Linked DNA regions of Homo sapiens. The protein of the gene in region 1 interacts with the protein of each later gene in a pairwise test. Each region holds a gene or a part of one and is shown in the gene's direction. Other genes may lie near its edges.

The links.
Region 2: the proteins of DAPK3 (region 1) and LUZP1 interact in binary tests that used the Homo sapiens proteins (3 or more experiments, as listed by UniProt).
Region 3: the proteins of DAPK3 (region 1) and TCP10L interact in binary tests that used the Homo sapiens proteins (3 or more experiments, as listed by UniProt).

Annotation. Positions count from the first base shown.
Region 1 is NC_000019.10:3,967,623-3,975,384, reverse strand, and holds the start of DAPK3 (death-associated protein kinase 3), read left to right. Parts: upstream 1-4,285; 5' UTR 4,286-4,464; intron 4,465-5,555; 5' UTR 5,556-5,649; coding exon 5,650-5,711; intron 5,712-7,762. UniProt on the Homo sapiens protein: Serine/threonine kinase which is involved in the regulation of apoptosis, autophagy, transcription, translation and actin cytoskeleton reorganization. Involved in the regulation of smooth muscle contraction.
Region 2 is NC_000001.11:23,158,371-23,166,031, reverse strand, and holds part of LUZP1 (leucine zipper protein 1), read left to right. Parts: intron 1-7,661.
Region 3 is NC_000021.9:32,575,038-32,582,698, reverse strand, and holds part of TCP10L (T-complex protein 10A homolog 1), read left to right. Parts: intron 1-283; coding exon 284-499; intron 500-3,867; coding exon 3,868-4,005; intron 4,006-5,775; coding exon 5,776-5,925; 3' UTR 5,926-7,661. Other genes in the region: CFAP298-TCP10L (uncharacterized protein LOC110091775), read left to right, coding at 284-499, 3,868-4,005, 5,776-5,925. UniProt on the Homo sapiens protein: May be involved in transcriptional regulation. Has in vitro transcription inhibition activity. Acts as a tumor suppressor in hepatocellular carcinoma (HCC) cells.

The DNA of each region.
Region 1 (7,762 bases):
ATTGTACCACTGTGCCCGGCCTTGTAAACACTTTTTTAGAGGCAGAGTCTTGCTGTCTCCCAGATGAGTATAGTGGTGCAGTCAGCTCACTGCATCCTCCACCTCCTGGACTCTCCTGCCTCAGCCTGCCAGGTAGCTGGGACTCCAGGCATGTGCCACCATGCCCAGCTAATTTTTATTTATTTTGAGACAGAATTTTGCTTGGCCTGGTTGGTCTCGAACTCCTGACCTCAAGTGATCTGCCCGCCTCGGCCTCCCAAAGTGCTGGGAATTATAGGCGTGAGCCACTGTGCTGACCTAATTTTTACTTTTTTTGTAGTAATGGGGTCTCACTATGTTGCTCAGGCTGGTCTCCTTCCCGGGCTCAAGCGATCCTTCTGCCTCAGCCTCCCAAAGTGCTGGGATTTCAGGTGTGAGCGCCAATAGCTTAGAAAACTATTTGTTTTTCTAAATAGTGCCTAAGATGTGAGGAGGCCTAATCTTGTCAGTGCTGATAAGGTTAACATGATCATTTTCCGCCTTTTACTCTGTCCTCAGGAAGGCAGGTGGGGACTGTGAAGTAGGGCTGTGGGGTTCTCGGCAAAGGCGGGGGCAGCTCTGGCCCTGCATTGTCAAGGCCAAGCCTCAGCTGAGGTTTTGCCCACATGTAGGTATGCCTGAGGTTTGGTTTGGCTGTCGCATTTGAATTGGGGCTGTAACTGACGCTGTTTCCAGCAGTCAGGGTAACGGATTACTGTGTTTCGAGAATCTCACTCTATCGCCCAGGATGGAGTGCAGTGTTGTGATCTTGGCTCACTATAGCCTCTGCCTCCGGATTCAAGTGCTCAAGCAATTCTTGTGCTTCAGCCTCCCGAGTAGCTGGAATTACAGGCGCCTATCACCAGGTCTGTGTAATTTTTGTATATTTAGGTGAGATGGGGTTTCACCATGTTGGCCAGGCTGGTCTCAAGCTCGACCGTAAGAGATCAGCCCGCCTCAGCCTCCCAAAGTGCTGGGGTTACAGGTGTGAGCCACCATACCGGGTCCTATTCTTTTTTAGTAGTGCAAACGTTAAGATGGTATGTGGAAGCTGAATTTTTTTTTTTTTTTGAGACAGTCTTTGCTCTGTCACCCAGGCTGGAGTGCAGTGGCTCAATCTTGGCTCACTGCAAGCTCCGCCTCCCGGGTTCACGCCATTCTCCTGCCTCAGCCTCCCGAGTAGCCGGGACTACAGGCGCCCGCCACCATGCCCGGCTAATTTTTTGTATTTATTAGTAGAGACAGGGTTTCACCGTGTTAGCCAGGATAGTCTCGATCTCCTGACCTCGTGATCCACCCGCCTCGGCCTCCCAAAGTGCTGGGAATTATAGGCGTGAGCCACTGTGCTGACCTAATTTTTACTTTTTTTGTAGTAATGGGGTCTCACTATGTTGCTCAGGCTGGTCTCCTTCCCGGGCTCAAGCGATCCTTCTGCCTCAGCCTCCCAAAGTGCTGGGATTTCAGGTGTGAGCGCCAATAGCTTAGAAAACTATTTGTTTTTCTAAATAGTGCCTAAGATGTGAGGAGGCCTAATCTTGTCAGTGCTGATAAGGTTAACATGATCATTTTCCGCCTTTTACTCTGTCCTCAGGAAGGCAGGTGGGGACTGTGAAGTAGGGCTGTGGGGTTCTCGGCAAAGGCGGGGGCAGCTCTGGCCCTGCATTGTCAAGGCCAAGCCTCAGCTGAGGTTTTGCCCACATGTAGGTATGCCTGAGGTTTGGTTTGGCTGTCGCATTTGAATTGGGGCTGTAACTGACGCTGTTTCCAGCAGTCAGGGTAACGGATTACTGTGTTTCGAGAATCTCACTCTATCGCCCAGGATGGAGTGCAGTGTTGTGATCTTGGCTCACTATAGCCTCTGCCTCCGGATTCAAGTGCTCAAGCAATTCTTGTGCTTCAGCCTCCCGAGTAGCTGGAATTACAGGCGCCTATCACCAGGTCTGTGTAATTTTTGTATATTTAGGTGAGATGGGGTTTCACCATGTTGGCCAGGCTGGTCTCAAGCTCGACCGTAAGAGATCAGCCCGCCTCAGCCTCCCAAAGTGCTGGGGTTACAGGTGTGAGCCACCATACCGGGTCCTATTCTTTTTTAGTAGTGCAAACGTTAAGATGGTATGTGGAAGCTGAATTTTTTTTTTTTTTTGAGACAGTCTTTGCTCTGTCACCCAGGCTGGAGTGCAGTGGCTCAATCTTGGCTCACTGCAAGCTCCGCCTCCCGGGTTCACGCCATTCTCCTGCCTCAGCCTCCCGAGTAGCCGGGACTACAGGCACCCGCCACCATGCCCGGCTAATTTTTTGTATTTATTAGTAGAGACAGGGTTTCACCGTGTTAGCCAGGATGGTCTTGATGTCCTGACTTCGTGATCTGCCCACCGTGGCCTCCCAAAATGCTGGAATTACAGGCGTTAGCCACCATGCCCTGCCACTTTTTTTTCTTTGAGATGGAGTCTCCCTCCGTCACCCAGGCTGTAGTATAGTGGCATGATCTCGGCTCGCTGCAACCTCCACCTCCTGGGTTCAAGCAATTCTCCTGCGCTAGCCTCCCGAGTAGCTGGGATTACAGGCATGTGCCACCAGGCCTGGCTAACTTTTGTATTTTTAGTAGAGACAGGGTTTCACCATGTTGAGCAGGCTGGTCTTGAACTCCTACTTCAAGTGACCTGCCCGCCTTGGCTGCCCAAGCTGTTGGGATTACGGGCGTGAGCCACCACACCTGGCCAACCCATTGTACGTTGAAAATGTAAATAAAAAATATAAAGGCCGGCTTGTGGCTCACGTCTGTAATCGCAGCACTTTGAGAGGCCGAGGCCGGCGGATCACAGATATTGAGACCATCCTGGCCAACATGGTGAAACCCTGCGTCTACTAAAAATACAAAAATCAGCTGGGAGTGGTGGCGTGCACCTGTAGTCCCAGCTACTCGGGAGGCTGAGGCAGGAGAATCGCTTGAACCCAGGAGGCAGAGATTGCAGTGAGCCCAGATCTCACCACTGCGTTCCAGCCTGGACGATAGAAGGAGACTGTCTCAAAAAAAAAAAAAAAAAAAAAAAAAGGCTGGGCAAGGTGGCTCATGCCTGTAATTCCTGCACTTTGGGAGGCCGAGGCGGGCGGATCAGGAGGTCAGGAGATCGAGACCATCCTGGCTAACACGGTGAAACCCTGTCTCTACTAATAAATACAAAAAATTAGCTGGGCGTGGTGACGGGCGCCTGTAGTCCCAGCTATTCGGGAGGCTGAGGCAGGAGAATGGCGTGAACCTGGGAGGTGGAGCTTGCAGTGAGCCGAGATTGTGCCAGTGTACTCCAGCCTGGGTGACAGAGCGAGACTCCGTCTCAAAATAATAATAAAAAATGAATTTAGGCCGGGCGCAATGGCTCACGCCTGTAATCTCAGCACTTTGGAAAGCTGAGGTGCCGGATCACCTGAGCTTAGGAGTTCGAGACCAGCCTGGGCAACATGGTGAAACCCCGTCTCTACTAAAAATACAAAAATTAGCCGGGCGTGGTGATGGGCACCTGTAATCCCAGCTACTTGGGAGGCTGAGGCACGAGAATCGTTTGAACCCGGGAGGTGGAGGTTGCAGTGAGCTGGATACCGCCGCTGCACTCCTGCCTGGGTGACAGAGTGAGACCCTGTCTCAAAAAATAAAATTAAAAAAAAAACAAACCTGATACCTCCCAGTGTTGTCAGTTGGCACATACTATGTCTCAATAAAATGCTTGCTGTTACCCTCTATTTTGAGACGAAGAGGGACCCTGTGTATGACAACCCCAGATTGACCTCATTTGCATTTTAAGTATTTAGAATGTGGGTAACAGTTTTCAGTGGAGGAAACTGCCACATAGGGACTAAAGCAGTCCCAGGGTCCACTCCAGGAGCTGCCAGGCGCGCTCGGCCACAGGTGAGCCATCCATTCGCCCAACCGGTGCTCCAGGAAGGCAGGAAGCGGGATGCAGGGCTTCAGCCTCACTTCTCGCAGCTTCAGCACCTGGGTCAGAGGAGAGGCGGGCGGGGCGATGAAGGGACCGGAAGTCGGCCTTTTTTCCGTCCGCTTGACCAGCGTCGACTGCAGCCAATGAAATCAGGGATGGCGAGTGTTCAGCCAGTGGTGAGGCTGCATCCGGGTGTGGGTGCCGAAAAGGCAGCTGGGGGCGGGACGTCGAGGTGCGGCACGAGCGGCGGGCGCACCGGCCAATAGGCGGCGGGGTTCGTTTCCCGGGGGTGGGCACTGGCGGGTGCGGTGACGTCGGCGCAGGCGCGTCGCGGCGGCAGGGGCGCGGGGCTTCTGGAGGCGGCGGCGGTGGCCAGCGCGGCGGCGCCGGCCGTATTCTCCGGGCTGCGGAGGGTAAAGAGCGGGCTCGGGCCGAGGCTGGAGGGCTGGGTGGGGCCAGAGCGGCGCTTCGGGGGCCCGCGGAGGACGAGGGAGGGAGAGAATCTGAGGAGCTGGTAGGTTTGGGGACCCATCTGGGTGACCGGGCCGGGGAAAGGGCTCGGCCGGGCGTGCGAGGGGCGTAGCGGCCCCAGGGATGCTGGAGCGGAGCCTTAGGGATGGGCAAGGCCTTGGGGGCGGGGGGAGGTTCTGCAAAGGGAGCCACTGGGGTCTGCCTAGGGGCTTGTGCGGAGATTGCGGGCGAGAAGGGGCAGAGGACGGTGGAGGAGACTCAGATGGGGCCCTTTTTGGCGGCCCGTTTTGGGGGGTAGGGGAGACGGCGGTTGGGGGACTTTGATACATGGAGCGTGGAGGAAGAGGTTAATCTTGCGAGGACAGTGGAGGTCAGCGGGGGAGGGAGGCAAAGTGGGCTTTCAGGAGCGTGGAAGGCGTCGTCCGGTTCTTGGAAAATTCAGAATTGGAGGGAGTCAGAGATGGTTGGGGGTGGGCGGGGGTGTTCCATCGATGAGGGTCTTAAGAGACCTGCCGAGGGCAAGGACCAGGAGGGGTTAAGGTAGTAACTTGGGAATTTTGATCGGAATGGCAGCACTTTGGGAGGCCTGGGACGATCGCTTGAGCCTTGGAGTTCCAGGCTGCAGTGAGCCATGATTGCACCACTGCACTCCAGCCAGGGCGACAGAGCGAGACTCCTTCTCAAAAAACAACAACACCAACAACAAAAGAAGTAGACTTGAGAACTTCGTTAAGACATTGGCCAGGGAGTAAGGTAGCCCTGGGATTTGAGGTTGAGGAGAACGTGCAGGAATGGTGGGGGATTTTGGCTGAGCAGGTTGAGAGAAGTCTAGGAGTGAGAGGCAAAAAAAGACGCAGGCAGCGTCGGGGAAATCAGAATTATGTGTCTGGAGAGAGTTTTGCGGGGTGAAGGTGGCCCAGTGGGGCTGTTACCAAACTTTTGAGTGGTTATGGGGCTCTAAGAGGTGACATGACAGGACCCAGCCCAGTAAACACAGCACCTCTTTTTGTCGAGTTTGGAGCTTCAGAGTGGAGAGGTGGGAGGCTTGTGTTTGCTGGACAGGTCTGTCCATTAATCTAGGAGAAAAGGGTGGTGTCTCAGTTCCTCACTTCTGTCTTTCCCTGTCTTCTCCAGGGTTGCCATTAGGGGACTCCTGAGGTCCTATCTCCAGGCTGCGGTGACTGCACTTTCCCTGGAGTGGAAGCTGCTGGAAGGCGGACCGGCCGCCATGTCCACGTTCAGGCAGGAGGACGTGGAGGACCATTATGAGATGGGGGAGGAGCTGGGCAGGTGAGCTGTCTGCCCGCACGGCTGGGCTCCAGGGATAGGAGAGAGGCGCTGTGGGGTTTTCTGAACAGCAGCTCTCCTTTCCTGTTCTTTATCCTGTATGCTGAGAAGGAATGAGTCAGTATCATGCGGTGGGGGAACGAATTTGGGCCGTGGAGTCAGACAGCCCCGGCTGTGAATTCCTGCTTGGGAATCCTCTGTGTGTTTCCTGTGGGGAGAAAAGTAATTGAGCCGTTACAGCAGCCAAGACCGTGCCTGGCATGGGGCACCAGAGCAACAGATGCCAGCTGCTTTTGTTATTAAAAGATGTGTCTTCTGCCTGGGCAACATAGCAAGACTCCATCCCTACAAAAAATAAAAATGAAAAAAAATTAACCAGGTGTGGTAGCTCATGCCTGTAGTCCCAGCTACTAGGGAAGCTGAGACGGGAGGATGGCTTGAGCCCAGGAGTTGGAGGAGGCTGCAGTGAGCTATGATCGTGCCACTGCACTGTAGCCTGGGCAACAGAGTGAAACCCCATTTATTTAAAAAAAAAAAAATCTCCCTGTGTTAATCCTCTTTTGTGGGAGGCACTTTAGTTTTTTTGCCCAGCTCTTGGATGTTTAAAGTGGGGGGAGGGAGGGGCGTGTCTCCCAGCTGGGCCCAAACCTCGGTCAATTGTTTAACATGCTTGTGGGAAAAAGCAGAGGTTTCCTCTTCCAGGGAGGCAGCTGATTTCCTGCCTGTCTGGGCCTTGGAGGGTCCCCCTGGGGCCCCACCCCCTCCAGACTAGCCAGGCACCACTAGGCCCTGCCTCCTTTTGTAGAGCCTCCAGCCTTATTTGGTGAGTTTGCTACTGGCCAGCCTCCCTGGAGCCTCCCCATGATGTCACCAGAAGGGAATGTAAATAAGTGAGCTCTGTGTCAGGCTAGGGAGAGTGCTGCAGGCTCTTTTGGGATCCTGAGGTCCCTCCTTCAGGAATTTCCTCGTTAGTGGCAGAGAAAGCATGCTCCCTCCTCCCCCTTCTCATGCTTCAGTGTTGACCCCTCCTGCTAGGGGTCGTTTGGCAAAAGTCAGCAAAATTCAGCCAAATTTCTTTTAACTCGCCGATTTCACCTCTAGGAATTAATTCATTGGAAAACTGTACATACATGGATGGAATGACTTAAGACTGGGGTAGTTGCTAGAACGTTTACCAGAATAACAGCCTTTTTTTTTTTTCCTTGACACTATCTCATTCTGTCGCCCAGGCTGGAGTGCAGTGATGCGATCTCGACTCATTGCAGCCTCGGCCTCCAGCCTAGCCTCCCGAGTAGCTGGGATTACAGGAGCCCGCCACCACCCCTGGCTAATTTTTGTATTTTTAGTAGAGACAGGATTTCACCATGTTGGCCAGGCTGGTCTCGAACTACTGACCTCAGGTGATTCACCTGCCTCGGCCTCCCAAAGTGCTGGGATCACAGGCGTGAGCCACCGCACCCCGCTGGGAACAGCAGCCTCTTAAATGGCCTTCCCCAAACCACTGCATCAGGGCTGGAATAGGATGCAGCTTGTAAAAAGAACCAGGCAGGGCCAGGTGCGGCGGCTTCCGCCTGTAATTCTAGCGCTTTGGGAGGCCAAGGCGGGAGGATCGCTTGAGCCCAGGACTTCAAGACTAGCCTGGGCAACATAAGTTGACCCCCATCTCTCAAACAAACAGAAATTCATAATTTTAAAAAAAGTATTTAGCCTTCTGTTTTTGCCGTGAAGCCTTGGAGGTCTGGTGTGTATTTCATGTCGCAGTTTTTCTCGGGACTGGCCACACCTCACGGGTTTGACAGCTCTGGGTGGCCAGTGTCTGCTGTTCTGACGGCACTGCTTCAGGTAGTGGTCTGGAACATTCTCAGAGATACATGAAGTGCAAGATGAAGGCCCAGAATGTAGCAATTTTTGTTTGTTTGTTTGAGACGGTGTCTGGCTCTGTTGCCGAGACTGGAGTGCAGTGGTGCCATCTTGGCTCACTGCAATCTTCGCCTCCCGGGTTCAAGTGATTCTCCTGCTTCAGCCTTCCAAGTAGCTGGAATTACAGGCGCCCA
Region 2 (7,661 bases), on another chromosome or scaffold:
ATAAGGCTGTAGTAGTGTAGTAGTGGTATGTACTATATGCCTCTAGGTGCTTACTTATTTCTTATGATGAAAGCATTTCTGTTAAAATGGGGAGTACCTAAGTGATCATATATTTCATTTATGTAATGGAAGTTGATGGATAGCTAATGGCCCTTCCAGTGTAAAGCGGCCATCATTAAGGTAACATTATCAGAAACAGAATCATTTTTCATGTAATACAGCTTTTAGGGACAGTGTCAACTTATGAGTAAAGCATGCTGTTACAGGTAGGACCCGGATAGTCCAGGCTGAAAGATGTGGTATAAACTTTGATGCATATAATAGATGCATAGCAAATATTTGATGAGTGAATGAATGAATGTAATGAATGTATTCCCTTTTTTTTTGGAGTGCAGTGCTGTGATGATGTCTCACTGCATCCTCTACTGCCTGGGCTCAAGTGATTTTCCCACGTCAGCCTTCTGAGAAGCTGGGACCACAGGTGTGTGCCACCATGCCTGGCTAACTTTTTTTTTTATTTATAGAGATGAGGTTTCCCTGTGTTTCCCAGGCTGGTCTCCTGGAACTCCTGGGTTCAGGGGATCCTCCCATGTCAGCCTCCCAAAGTGTTGAGATTACAGGCATGAGCCATCATGCCCTGCCCGGAATGCATTCTTTAAAAAAAAAAAAAAAGCTTTATTGAGGTATAATTTACATACAATAAAATTCACCAATTTTAAGTGTACAGTTTGACAAATTTTGACACATGTATACAGTTGTATAATTACCACCACTGTGTTTATTTTTTTAAACTGTGTGTTATCTTTTAGGAATTGGGTAGCAGATTTATCCCTGGGAATGTTATGAGGTTTCTATGCTCAGATTCAATACTGTGAGATCAGAATGAATATTAGAGTGTTAATGTGCCAACTTGGGAGGAAATAGGAAAACCTTCGGTATTTAATGGTGAGGTAAATAGGAAGAATAAGGAGAGACATTTATTGGATTAGGGGAAAGATAAATAAATTCAGGAGGAAGTAGATTTTAGTTACTTTTAAGACAGAGGATACATTTTGGGGAAAAAGTTACCAAAAGATTTAAGGAGTTGAACTTTTTATTTTTTTTCTTTTGAAATGGTAGCTCCTGAAATATAAAACTTAACATCTTTGGCTGTGCTTAAGAAGCGCTTAACAAATTATGGTTGTTCAAATAATACTTAAGGGTGGGGATGGTGTAAAGTGGTTGAAGGCCTTGCCCTTCCACCTATGACAGAATATCCTTAGTGTTGATCTCTAACTTGTTTTAAGTAATATTCCACAAAGGGAAGAATACATTAGGTAGCAATTGTGGCTTGCGGGGAAGATTGTTTCTTCCTTTTCATAATTTCTCAAGTCACTGAACTTCTCCCAGTATGCTTTAGCTCAAGTCTCTGTCTCTTAGAAAATGCCTGGAACCTGTGCTAGTGAGCTTCTAGAAGAAGCCCCATTTCTACCTTCTCTTTATTTTTTGATTTTATCTTTATTCATTCTGTTTCTGTATGGTGACTGTGTTTTTTTTTTTTGAGACGGTGTCTCACTGTGTCACCCAGGCTGAAGTGCAGTGGTGTGATCTTGGCTCACTGCAAGCTCCGCCTCCCGGGTTCACGCCATTCTGCCTCAGCCTCCCGAGTAGCTGGGACTACAGGCACCCGCCACCATGCCCGGCTAATTTTTTGTATTTTTAGTAGAGATGGCATTTCACCGCGTTAGCCAGGATGGTCTCGATCTCCTGACCTCGTGATCCGCCCGCTTCGGCCTCCCAAAGTGCTGGGATTAGAGGCGTGAGCCACCGCGCCCAGCCGGTGACTATTTTATAAGCCCTTCTCTCACCCATGGATTTGTCTGAGAATGGAAACTTTTTTTTTTTGCTCTGCCCGAAGCAAAGGAATTCTTGTTAAATCCACCATTGGTCCTCCGTATACCATTAGGAAATAATAATTAAAATAACCCTTTAGATCTACTCAAAGGGGTGACTATAATAGTGTTCCCTCCTTGAGCGGGGGACATGCTAATCTTCTCTGTATTATTCCAGTTTTAGTATTTGTGCTGCAGAAGTGACTACTCTGTTCACCTTTGAAAAAATAATAACTCTATGAGGTAGTCATTATCCTTATTTTATAAATGAGGGAACTGAGCTCAGAGCAGTTAACTGCCAGAGCAAGTGAGGGGCAGACCATTGATTCGAGCTCAGGTATGATTGATGCTCAGGTTTGGGGTCTATGTCATTACACTCTCAGTTGTATGGGAGTGGAGGGTCAAGGGAAGAGCTTGAAAATACCATATTAAAATATGAGCCACAACATGACAAGCATTGCTAACCTTTTTAGGCATTGCTGTTGTCATCTATGACTTTCTTAATTTCTGGAGATTCCTCCTTATGTTCTAAGGAATTGATAGTTAATCCTTTAGTATTGCACAACTTCCTTCCCAGACTCAGCATTTTTTTTTTTTTTTTTTTTAAGAGACGGGATCTCACTCTTTCTCTCGATCTGGAGTATAGTGGCAGTCATAGCTCACAGCAGCCTTGAACTCCTGGGCTTAGGCAGTTCTCCTTCCTCAGCCTCCGATTAGCTGGGACTACAAGTGTGCACCACCATGCCCAGCTAATTAAGAAACATTTTTTTTTTTTTTGTAGAGATAGGGTTTTGCTTTGTTGCCCAGGCTGGTCTTGAACTCCTGGGCTCAAGCGATTCTCCCACCTTGGCCTCCCAGAGTGTTGGGATTACAAGCATGAGTGGCACCTGGCCCCAACATGCTTTTTTTTTTTTTTTTTTTTTGAGAGAGTCTCACCCTGTCACCCAGGCTGGAGTGAAGTGGTGTGATCTCGGCTCATTGCAACTTCCACCTCCCGGGTTCAAACGATTCTTCTCCCTCAGCCTCCCAAGTAGCTGGGAGTACAGGTGCCTGCCACTACACCCAGCTAATTTTTGTATTTTTAGTAGAGACAGGGTTTTACCATGTTGGCCAGGCTGGTCTCGAGCTGCTGACCTCGTGATCCGCCTGCCTCGGCCTCCAAAAGTGCTGGGATTACAGGTGTGAGCCACCGCACCCAGCCTTATTCTTTATTAACATGGTACTTTGTATCACTGGCTGTTTGAATTACTCCTCTGAAAGCTTCTACCCGGGTAATCTTTCATTCAAGACCTGCCGTATTTGCATGTGCCCCTTTATACCGTTTGTTTCTTTATTTTTACAAAAAAATTTAAAAATATGGACTGCTTTATGAATTAGCATGTCATCCTTGTGCAGGGCACATACTAATCTTCCCTGTACCATTCCAATTTTAGTATTTGTGTTGTGGAAGTGAGCACTCTATTCCTGTTTTTATCTGGACAAAATAGTATTTTAAAAATGTATTATGGGCTGGGCTAACATGGTGAAACCCCGTGGCTACTAAAAATACAAAAAATTAGCCAGGCATGGTGGCAGGCACCTGTAGTCCCAGCTACTCGGGAGGCTGAGGCAGGAGAATGGCGAGAACCCAGGAGGCAGAGCTTGCAGTGAGCCGAGATCACGCCACTGCACTCCAGCCTGGGCAACAGAGCGAGACTCCGTCTCAAAAAAAAAAAAAATAAAAGTATATTACGTTATTAAAAACTTTATGATTGAAGTATATAATACATATACAGAAAAATGCATGTAAAAGTGGAATTTGATGTTTTTTTCCCACAAACTGAATATACCCATGTAAGCAGCACCTAGATCTAGATCAAGAAACAGCGTTACCAGTACCTAGAAGCCCCTATCCAGTTCCCTTTCAGTTCCTGTCTCCCCTCTACCACCCAGGGTAATCACCATCCTGACTTCTGACAGCATAGATTATTTTGCTCTTTTTTTGTACTTTTGTAAAAATTGAATCATATAGTATATATTGTTTGTGGTCTGGCTCCTTTTATTTAACACTAATGTGACCGTGCAAAAATTTTTAGTGGTTTTTAGATTTGGAATAAAATTCAAATTTCAGCTTTTTTTTTTTTTTTTTTTTTTTTTTGAGACAGTCTCGTTCTGTCGCCCAGGCTGGAGTGCAGTGGCGCGATCTCAGCTCACTGCAACCTCCACCTCCTGGGTTCAAGCCGTTCTCCGCCTCAGCCTCCCAAGTAGCTGGGATTAAAGGTGCCTACCACCACGCCTGGCTAATTTTCGTGTTTTTAGTAGAGACGGAGTTTCACCATGTTATGTTGGCCAGGCTGGCCATGAACTCCTGACCTCTTGATCCACTCACCTCAGCCTCCCAAGGTGCTGGGATTACAGGCGTGAGCCACTGTGCCTGGCCATTTCAGTTCTTTATTTTGACCTATAATGCCCTGTATAGCCCGTCTCCTGGCTACTTTTCGGGTAGGCAATTGGCATTTTATGCCAATCTCATTGCCCATTATGCCTCTGTTACGCTAACTTCTTATTTTTATTCTTATTTTATTTAATTTTTAGAGATGGGGTCTTACAATATTGCTCAGGCTGGTCTCAAACTCCTGGCCTCAAGCTGTCCTTTGGCCTCCAGAGTAGCTGAGATTACAGGCATGAGCCACTGGCCTTATTTATTTTTAAACTCAGTGAGCTGTTTCCTACCTCAGGGCCTTTGTATGCATGGCTCTGTCTTCCTCGAACACTTCTTTTCCCTGCTCTTTGCATGGCTGCCTTCATGCCTGAGCTTATGTATAAATATCAGGGATACTTTTTCTCATCATCGTGTCTTGCTAGTCCTTTCCCATTATTCCCTATTACTGGCTTCTGTTGCCTCCTTTCATAGCACCTATTGCAATTTATGATTATATATCTGCGTGCATGATTATTATGTCTTCCCTGCTAGATTCCATGAAAGCAGAGAACTCATCTGTTTTGTTCTCCAGTGTATCTCTAGTGCCTAACACAGTGACTGACATAGAGTAGGTATTTAATAAATATTTAATGGCCATATTCCCAATTCAGCACCTTTGGTCCCATTATCTTTTGTCCTTTCCTCTTATGCTGTTTAACTATTTAAATCTTTTCCACCCCTCAAGACTGAGCTCAGTTCTCCCTCTTTGAAGTCTATCATGGTTTTGCAACAGTTAATCTTTCTTCTCTAAAATTTTATAGCATTTATTGCCAGTACCACCTTGTGTTCATGGAAAATCACACTATCACATATCTTATTTTACCTAGTTGTATCAAAAGCTTCTTATTTTCTCAGAAATCTTGTAGCTTGTTATGCCAGTACCCCTCATATTTTTGGTTAACTTGACCAGCTTCTATTAATATCTTAATTAGCTAATTTGACTGGAAGCTTCTCGATCAGAAGCTGTTTTAGCTAATGCCCTCCTCAGTTATTTTCACTGGCACATAGTAGGTCTTTAGTAGAGTTTTTGATGACCAATGATATTTATGTATAGGTAGCAATTTTAATTTCTTAAGCTTATTAACTTGGATTCTTTTTATTAGAATCCTGCTTAGTATTTTCTCTAATCTAAAGGCCGGGAGTGCACCAACTGCTTCCGGCGATATAGAGACTATTAGGGTGTGAAAGTACAGGAGTCCAGTCCTAATGCCACAAAGCAGATTCTCCTTTGGAACTTGTCACTGGTGTAGAATTAACTATGCAGAGTTCCTTCTTAGAAAAAATGCTTTATCAGTGCTTGTTTAATGTTCTCAGATTGGAATTACTAACAGAAACAAGACACTAGGTAGTACTTTATTTGAATTTTCTGTTGACTAACATTTTATTTTGATGTCAACAAAGCAAATCTTGAGCCAATTAAATCTGCTTAAAGCTGCTTTGTCTGATGGGTAAGCTCTCTCAGTAGTTACTCTTCCTCTTGTGTTAAAGGCAGAAGAATGTTCTATAAGCCAATTTAAATGCAAATTTAAATTAGTAGCAACTTAGTTGATTTAACTCAGTACATATTTCAAATTAAGTGGTAAATTTAAATTAGTTTTTAGGAGGTACCTACTGTGTATTTTAAATCAGTGATTATTTTGGCTTTTCTGATGAAACTACATCAGAATATTACAGGGTAATGTAGTAATTGGTTTGTTTTTGTTTTTGTTTTTTGAGACGGAATTTTACCCTTGTTGCCCATGCTGGAGTGCAGTGGCGTGATCTTGGCTCACTGCAACCTCCACCTCTTGGGTTCAAGCGATTCTTCTGTCTCAGCCTCCCGAGTAGCTGGAACTACAGGCGCATGCCACCATGCCCAGCTCATTTTTGTATTTTTAGTAGAGACAGGGGTTTCACCATGTTGGCCAGGCTGGTCTCGAACTCCTGACCTCAAGTAATCCGCCTGCCTTGGCTTCCCAAAGTGTTGGGATTACAGGCATGAGCCACCGCGTCTGGCGTGATACTGATATTATTAGCCATTGGCTATGTGACAGGCACTATCCTAAGCATTTTTCATACATTAGTTTATTTACTCATTCACTCAACAAATATTTATTGAGTACCTATCATGTTTCAAGCTCATAATCTCATGTATTCTTCACCACACCCATGAAGTAAGTATATAGTTTATTATTTTAACCCCATTTTACAGATGAGGAACTGGTACACACAGAAGCTAGATATCCAGTGTCACAAGCTGTTGAGGGTCAGATACTGAGGTTTTTTAAAAGAATGCCAGTTAGTGACATCTTTGGCATGAATTAATTCTATGCTAGATTTTTATCTTTGGGAGGGGAGCAGTAATCAAATTTTTTTTTTTGAGACAGAGTCTCGCTCTGTAGCCCAGGCTGGAGTGCAGTGGTGTGATCTCGGCTCACTGCAAGCTCTGCCTCCCGGGTTCACGCCATTCTCCTGCCTCAGCCTCCCGAGTAGCTGGGACTACAGGTGCCCGCCACCACGCCTGGCTAATTTTTTTGTATTTTTAGTAGAGATGGGGTTTCACCATGTTAGCCAGGATGGTCTCAATCTCCTGACCTCGTGATCCGCCCTCCTCAGCCTCCCAAAGTGCTGGGGTTACAGACCTGAGCCACCGTGCCTGGCCAGTAATCAAATTTTGAAGTCTCTGGTAAACTGTAGTCAAAATGATTAGAACAGAATGTGATAAGCTAAACTGAGATTACTTCTTCTCTTACCCCCAACCCATCTCTTTTTTTTTTTTTTTTTGAGATGGAGTCTTGCTCTGTCAGCTCACTGCAACCTCTGTCTCCCGGGTTCAAGGGCTTCTCCTGCCTCAGCCCCCTGAATAGCTGGGATTACAGGCACCTGCCACCACAGCTGGTGAATTTTTGTATTTTTAGTAGAGACGGTGTTTCACCATGTTGGCCAGGCTAGTCTTGAACTCCTGGCCTCAGGTAATCTGCCCACCTCCGCCTCCCAAAGTGCTGGGATTAAACGCATGAGCCACCATGCCTGGACCCAACCCTTTTTTTTTTTTTTTTTTTTTTTTTTTTTTGAGACAGAGTCTTGCTCTTGCCACTCAGGTCAGGGTGCAATGGCACGATCTCGGCTCACTGCAACCTCCATCTCCCAGGTTCAAGTGATTCTCCTGCCTCAGCCTCTCAAGTGGCTGGGATTACAGGCGCCTGCCACCATGCCTGGCTAATTTTTGTATTTTTAGTAGGCAGGGTTTTGCCATGTTGGCCAGGCTGGTCTCGAACTCCTGACCGCGTGATCTGCCTGCCTTGGCCTTCCAAAGTGCTGGGATTACAGGCGTGAGCCACTGCGCCTAG
Region 3 (7,661 bases), on another chromosome or scaffold:
ATCGCTTGAGCTCATCAAGTTGAAGCTTCAGTGAGCTGAGATCATGCCACTGCACTCCAGCCTGAGTGACTGAGTGAGACCCTGAAAAAAGAAAAGAAAAGAAAGAAAGAAAGGAAAGAAAGAAGAAAGAAAAAGGCTGTGGTAGTCCTGTTTATCTCATCGGGTGTCTTTTATTCCAGAAATAGTGTTGGTCTTACATCAGAGAGGGCTTGAGTATTTTGCAGATAAATGTGCCCATTGTGACATCTGAGAGGTTTTTCTGGTGTTCTCTTCCCAATAACAGCCATTACAGCAGCAGATCATCAGACTCCACCAAGAGCTTGGGAGACAGAAGTCTCTGTGGGCTGATGTTCATGGAAAACTCCGGAGTCATATAGATGCTTTGAGGGAGCAGAACATGGAGCTCCGAGAAAAGCTGAGAGCTCTGCAGCTGCAGCGGTGGAAAGCCAGGAAGAAATCTGCAGCGTCCCCACACGCGGGGCAAGAATCGCACACTCTGGTACCAAAAGCGCATTTATGTTTTTGTACCGTTTGCGTTATGTAAAAATAGCGTCCCCATAAAGATGTGGGCTTTATTGCTGAATGACGCGGTATCACTCACGCTCCGGGTGGTGGGAGGGGTTGCTATCTTTCCATCAACTCCATTTCCCGTAAGTAATGATTAATAAGAACTGGATACATCAGGCCTCTCACCTGGCACTCCAGCAGACAGAAGCATTGCCGCCCCCAGGCCGTGTGTCTCAAGTCCAGAATTCTAAGACATCTCATGATGTCTCAGGACAACAGCAGCAAACCCTTACTGTGGACTTTACATGGGCTAGGTACGGAGCTTTACGGTCTTACTCTCTATGACGACCCTATGAAATGGATCCTATTACTAACCCCATCGTGGCCACGGGCTGGAGAACGTAGAGCTGGGATTTGAACCCAGGGTGACTCCAGAGCCAGCTCAGTAGCCTGGTGTCCTTCTGTTCATCCTCTAGGACAGCTGTGTAGAATGCAATAGAGACCTGTTGAAACGGGAAAAGTTCCCTTGTCCCCCTCGCAGGGTGTGCGATGGGGGTGTGGCTCGCTTCTTTGGTTCCCCACTGCTCAAACCTCTAGGGGAGTGTACAGACCGGCAGGCTATGGGGCTCTGACCCCACGGCAGTGTCTGGGGGTGAATGTTTCCAGCTGAAGCCCCAGAGGGTGTGTGTTACAGTGCGGGAGCTCTTTCAGTTTACCCCTCCGTAGGCAGCTTGTGTTTATCAGCTCAATTAGACCCTCTGCCTTATCACAAGGACAGAGGGCTTTCTGTATCCTGGGTTCTTGCCTTGGTGTACCTGAAAAATCAGATCACACATGGGCTTGGAGGATGGGTGCAAGGTTTTTTATTGAGTGGTGATACCTGTCAGCAGATGGGGGAGCCAGAAGGGAGATGGAGTGGGAAGGCAGTTTTCCCCTTGGGAGTTGGGCTGCCCAGTGACCGGGCTCTCCCCTGACCACCCCAAGCAAACTCCGTGTCATTCCGCCAGTCGATGGCCTGCTGGCGTCTGCTGTGTCTGCTGGTGTGCTCTTCTGCCGGTGTGTTCTTCTCGACATCCAGCCGCTTGGTCTCTGCCCGCTAGGGTCTTGGGGTTTTTATAGGCATAGGATGGGAGTGTGGCAGGCCACGGTGGTCTTGGGAAATGCAACATTTGGGCACAAAAGCAGAAATGCGTAGGTCCATGGGCACAGGCCCAGGGGTCGAGCCCTAGCCAGGGACCCCGTTCTTCTCCACCCAGGACTTTCCTGCCCCCATCCTGTATCACTAACCTGCTCTATCCCGAACGAAGAACCAGCATTCTCATGCTGAAGTAGTGGGTGCCTCCCAGCACCAGCCTGCCTCTACAGAACACTGAGCTTTCACGTTTGATCACACCGCTCAAAGAACCAGCCTAAGAGAGTGTGAATGTGGCCAGTGTTATCACTGCCTTGTCTGGGTTCTGTTTCCTGCATATGGATCTAAATAACTTGAATCATTAAAATTATACATACAGGTAACAACACATGAAACCACATGAACACCCTCCAAACGTAAGTGGGGATATTTCTTAGTGGATTAAGAAAAGTACTAACATTTCCTAGCTGCATTTATTGTGTGAACTTTTAAATCGGTACTTCCAGGACTTAGAATATTTCCGATACAGCACAGTGATTACAACACACACACACACACACACACACACACACACACACACACAGGCACCCACCGAATACATTCCAGAGGAGACTGCTCTGTGGTTTGTTCTCCAAGCACAGCAAAAACAGCCACAGCTGGGCGCGGTGGCTCACACCTGTAATCCCAGCACTTTGGGAGGCCGAGGCAGGTGGATCGTGAGGTCAGGAGATTGAGACCATCCTGGCTAACACGGTGAAACCCCGTCTCTACTAAAAATACAAAAACATTAGCCAGGTGTGGTGGCGGGTGCCTATAGTCCCAGCTACTCGGGAGGCTGAGGCTGGAGAATGGCCTGAATCAGGGAGGTGGAGCTTGCAGTGAGCCGAGATCGCGCCACTGCACTCCAGCCTGGGGGACAGAGCAAGACTCCGTCTGAAAAAAACAAAACAAACAAACAAAAAAAACTGCCACAAGTTCCTCTACAAGAAATTACGGGAAATCTTGGAAGTTATTCCCACTCTTCGGGAGCTCTGCGAGAGCTTTGTTTCCATGGAGATGGCTTCTGCTGCCTCAGAAAGAAAGTGAGTTTAGCCTCTCAGCACAGCAAAGCGCCGAGTCCTTCTGCGGAAGGAAGAGCAGAAGCTGGGCAGGCTGTTCCTCTGTCAGAGGAAGAGTGGGGGAAATTGCCACAAATACTGGCCGGGATTGTCCACCTTCTGTGGGGAGAACCCAAGAAGACTCACAGGGATTTTTTTCCCTACATATATTGTATGCCAGTTCCTAAAAAATAGTATCTACTGCCCCATTTGGGTCATTGTATAACAATTACCCTAAGAGTCAATGAAGTCTTATTCAGTCTTCACATGCCCTGCAGTTTTGATCATTCTCTTATTTTGAGATTAGAGCTTGGTGAATTTCCAAATATTTTTCCATTCTGTGCATTGCACTGGTCACCGTGGGGCTATTTATAAGAACAGGATGTACGCTCACAAGAGCATACCTGATTTGAAGAAACAGGATGGGATATGTGAATCCCACACTTTAAATATGCGAAGGTGTATCTGTGTGTAGTCGCCGTTTTAGGGACTGAATATCTAAAAGGCTGAGACTCGAGCACCCACAGAACGCGGGCATGGCTGTGTGGGTGAGCCACTCTGGATCTGATATTAAGGGTTCGTTCATAGCAACCCTCTCCCCTTCTCATTCCCTTCTCCTCCTCAGAGGGCAGAACGGTGAATAATTTAGCATTCCAGACCTAATATACCTCATCCCACCTGAAGGATCACCCTGTTCCAGGTCAGTCTGCTGATAACAGGGAAAGTTGGGAATTTGCATTTTGGATCTTAGACAAGTTGTAGAGACAACACTAGAAGTAGTATCACATTTTCTTCCTCCGTTAACACACTCCCGGTTGAAGACACAGGAGCCTAAAGGAAGATATGTTGGGGATTGTTTGTTCTGTAGCCTTTGGGATCCTGTGATCATTTTGAAACAAGGAACCACAATAAGAAACACAAAGCAAACATCGGCTCCACAAAGGTTCCTTCACAAACGCTTGGTGAGGGTTTCTGTTCTTATCAACATATTAGGGGGAAAACCCAGTCCAAGTCCCCCTACCTTGTACCCTATTTTTTTCTAGGACATTCCAATTATTCTTCATTGTATTAAAATTTGAATTTATTTTACCTTCGAAAATGTGAAGAATTTCCCTGCATTTTGTCTTTTAGGCATTGGAACCTGCTTTTGGAAAAATTTCACCTCTGTCAGCTGATGAAGAGACAATACCCAAATACGCTGGCCACAAGAATCAGAGTGCCACTCTCCTGGGACAAAGATCGTCATCTAACAATTCAGCTCCTCCAAAGGTGACCCTTTGTGCTTATCATCTGTAAAGAGAAGCAGAGGTTCTGTACCCAAACACACACATCCCATCAGCTCCTCACCACACAATTTCACCTCCCTGGGTGAGCATGGTGCTCCCTGGAGTCCTGTGTTCTTCCAAGGACACGGGTACATGCCTTTCAAACAAGATCCTAACCCTTAGCACTTCTTGCTGTGGAGCAGATTCCAAGTCCTCCCGGCTGCTTCCCTCTGAGTACACTCACAGCAGCAAGCGTCTGGCTGGGGCCGAGGGGACTTGGGGGCTTTGTTTCCGTGGGTGCAGGCTGCGGAGGTGATGTGTGTGGCACTGTCTCCACCCGTGAGTCTGAGGGCTCGCAGCCTCCCGTGCTCCCTGCTTCTGCACTGCGGTCTTGCACCTGCTGCTTGTCGGCGTGGACTCCTCTGAACAGGGGTGGCGCTGTTAGCTTGGGAGCCACAGTACAGGATGCTATTTTGTCTCTTGTTGGGAATAGGCCCCCAGATCTGGCCATAAACTGGCCCCAAAACTGGCCACAAACAAAATCTCTGCAGCACTGTGACATGTTCGTGATGGCCATGATGCCCACGCTGAAGGTTGTGGGTTTACCAGAATGATGGCAAGGAACACCTGGCCCACCCAGGGTGGAAAACCGCTTAAAGGCGTTCTTAAACCACAAACAGTAGCATGAGCGATCTGTGCCTTAAGGACATGTTTCTGCTGTGGATATCTAGCCAGAGCCCATCCCTTTGTTTTGGCCCATCCCTTTGTTTCCCATAAGGAATACTTTTAGTTAATCTATAATCTATAGAAACAATTTATCACTGGCTTGCTGTCAATAAATATGTGGGTAAATCTCTGTTCACGGCTCTCAGCTCTGAAGGCTGTGAGTGCCCTGATTTCCCACTCCACATGCTATACTTCCGTGCGTATGTCTTTAATTCCTCTAGCACTGCTGGGTTAGGGTCTTCCTGACCGAGCTGGTCTCGGCAGTCTCTATCACATTTTTCTTTGTTAAAATTAGCTCCTCTTTAGAACATTCTCCCAGCCAGTGTGTCTCTTCCTGTCCCAGCTTTGTGTCACCCTCATACTCAGGAAGCAAATCTCGTGAGTCCACAGCCAGCAACTGATACTGGGTTGATGTGGATGGAGAAGGCGCCCCCAACTCCTGAAGATGATTTATCCCCTCGCATTCTTTCCCAAAGCAACTGCTGAGCAGATAACACTTTATTCCCTGAAGGAAGATCAGAAATCTACTCCAAGCATTTGTCACAAGTAGGAAAAGAGCCTTTTCAGATCCTATGAGTACAAAACATCGTAAGTCCCAGGGTGGACTGCACAGGCCCAGCCTCCTGTGAGACGCGGACTTCTCTCATGCTCCATCATTGACCTGAGTTAATCACAGGCATGCGGGGCAATGTACGAGTAAATAGATAACTGAATGGGTGGCTTATCCACGCCTTGAAACCATCAATTGTTAAATAGTGCAAAATGTAGAAAATTATTTTTATTATGCATTTTTGAATTGAGTTTCAAGCACTTTATTTCACTGTTGACTTTACAATATCAGCCATGTATTGGAATCCCAAATTTCACAAGAGCGTGGGCTGTAAAATGGGGAATGAGAGACACTAAGTGTGGATACCTCATGTGTCCTTCTGTAGGAAGGGGGAGTAGAATCATCTACATTCTGTGATAGCTGGTATGATGTGTTGCTTAACATTTAAAAATAATATAATTGTTACTAATGCAAAAATATTCCCACATTTGTTTTCAGCCAATGAGTTTAAAGATAGAAAGAATTAGCTCGTGGAAAACACCACCACAGGAAAATAGAGATAAAAATCTTTCCAGGAGACGTCAAGACAGAAGAGCAACACCTACTGGAAGGCCAACTCCCTGTGCAGAGAGACGGGGGGGTGTCTGAAGATGGAAAGGTGGCCTCGGACACCTGTGTCACTCTACACTGGCCCCTTGGAAAATTCAGATTCAGATAAAGTTCCACTTAGGTCTAATAAAAGTACTCAATTTGTTATTCAAAATAGACCTAGTAATTTATTAAACTAATTATGTTTCTATAGATAAAAACTTGAAGTTCTTCAGACATGTCTCTAATGCTATAAAAGCAAACAACTTGGATTGGGTTTTATAAATCAGTTGCTTTCCTGAGCTCTGTAGTTGGTATATTTCTGCAGAGTCTTTAAAAAAATTAACCCACCTTGTAGTATGGAGTGTCGGGCTGTTGGGTGAGCCCTGGGGTCTTGCTGGAAATCGAGGATGGCTGAAGATGGCTTTGTGCTCCCAGCCTTTGGGCTCAAGGCATTGCCCGCTCCAGGGACCTTGTGACAAGGCGGGCCTGTGACTGTCATTGCCCCAGGCTATGCATCCATCTTCCCGAAGTCTGCAAAACTTGAGTGGCAGAAAATCACCAGTGCAGGCTTCCCAGGCCGCCATGCTGCAGGAGCAGATGGCAGCAGCCGGAGGAGCTGGTGAGCAGAGTTGGGGACTCCTGTTTCTATGCTCCCCGTGAAATGCGGGGCTTTCTCGTGGATACGCGTGAGCAGAACATCTTACTATGGCAAGGACATGTCCTTCCTGGAGCTGCCTAATTTGTGGCCACTTTTTGTCTGATTCCCTCGTTGGGTCCTCACCTGTGAGACTTGCCAACACCCCCAGCCCTCCACCCCACACACAGCCCACATGCCGGTCTCCAGGGGCCGTGACTGGAGATTCCGAATCCTAGCGGTCACTTCCCTCTGAGCACACTCCCAGCAGAAGGCGTGTGGCTGGGGCTAGATGCACTTGGGTGCTTTGTTCCCCTTTCTCCATTTGCCAGCCCATGGCATTGCTGCCACCCTGATGGAGCGCCCTCTCATCTGGCACCTTCCTGGCCTCTTTCCCAGGCCCCAGTTCTGTCCATGCAGCTGTGGGTGCTTCCTGCATTGCGGGTCTCACGGGGAGGAGACGAGAGTGCCCCTGGTTGAGTCAGGAAAGAATTCTATCTTCACGTCGCTGCCAGCAAATGACCACAGCAGCTTCACGACCTCTGCAGGAACCTATCTTGGTAAAGAAACGGGGCCTATGTGGTGGCCGAGCCTCAGGTGTGGCCGAGCTTCAGGTGTGGCCCTTATGCACAGCACAGCCCAAGCCTGTGGGCACCACTCGCCCTGGGCTGCCTGGCACCTGGACTCCTTCCCATCCTTGGCCGAGGTCTGCGTGGCCCTTCAGGGCCGAATCTGACACTGTCTTCCTCCTGAGTCTGCCCCCCGGGCTTCCTGCCCACCCCCAGGCTGTTTCATGGCCTCTGCAGGGAGCTTCGTAGAGGTGAGGCTGGTGCCATCTGTCTGCTTCAGACCACCTCAGGCTCTGCGTGCCCTCACAGTCCCCTCTGCACTTCTCTGTGGGGCAGGGAAGCCCTTCCCATCAGGTCTGCTCCAGCCTGGCTACCTTGTTCCTGCTGTCCCCTCCCCTTCAGGCCCCCGGACAAGACTTCAGTGTACTTGCTGGTGCCGGGCAGAATGGGGGACCTTGCCTCTCACACACACCTGCTAGTATCTCCGCAACCTCCAGGCATCATCTCAGCTGACAGTGACGCCATCCTGGGGAAGCTCCCCTGACTCCTGGCTCTCCTGGAAGCCTGTGGTGCTCCTTCACAATGGCCCG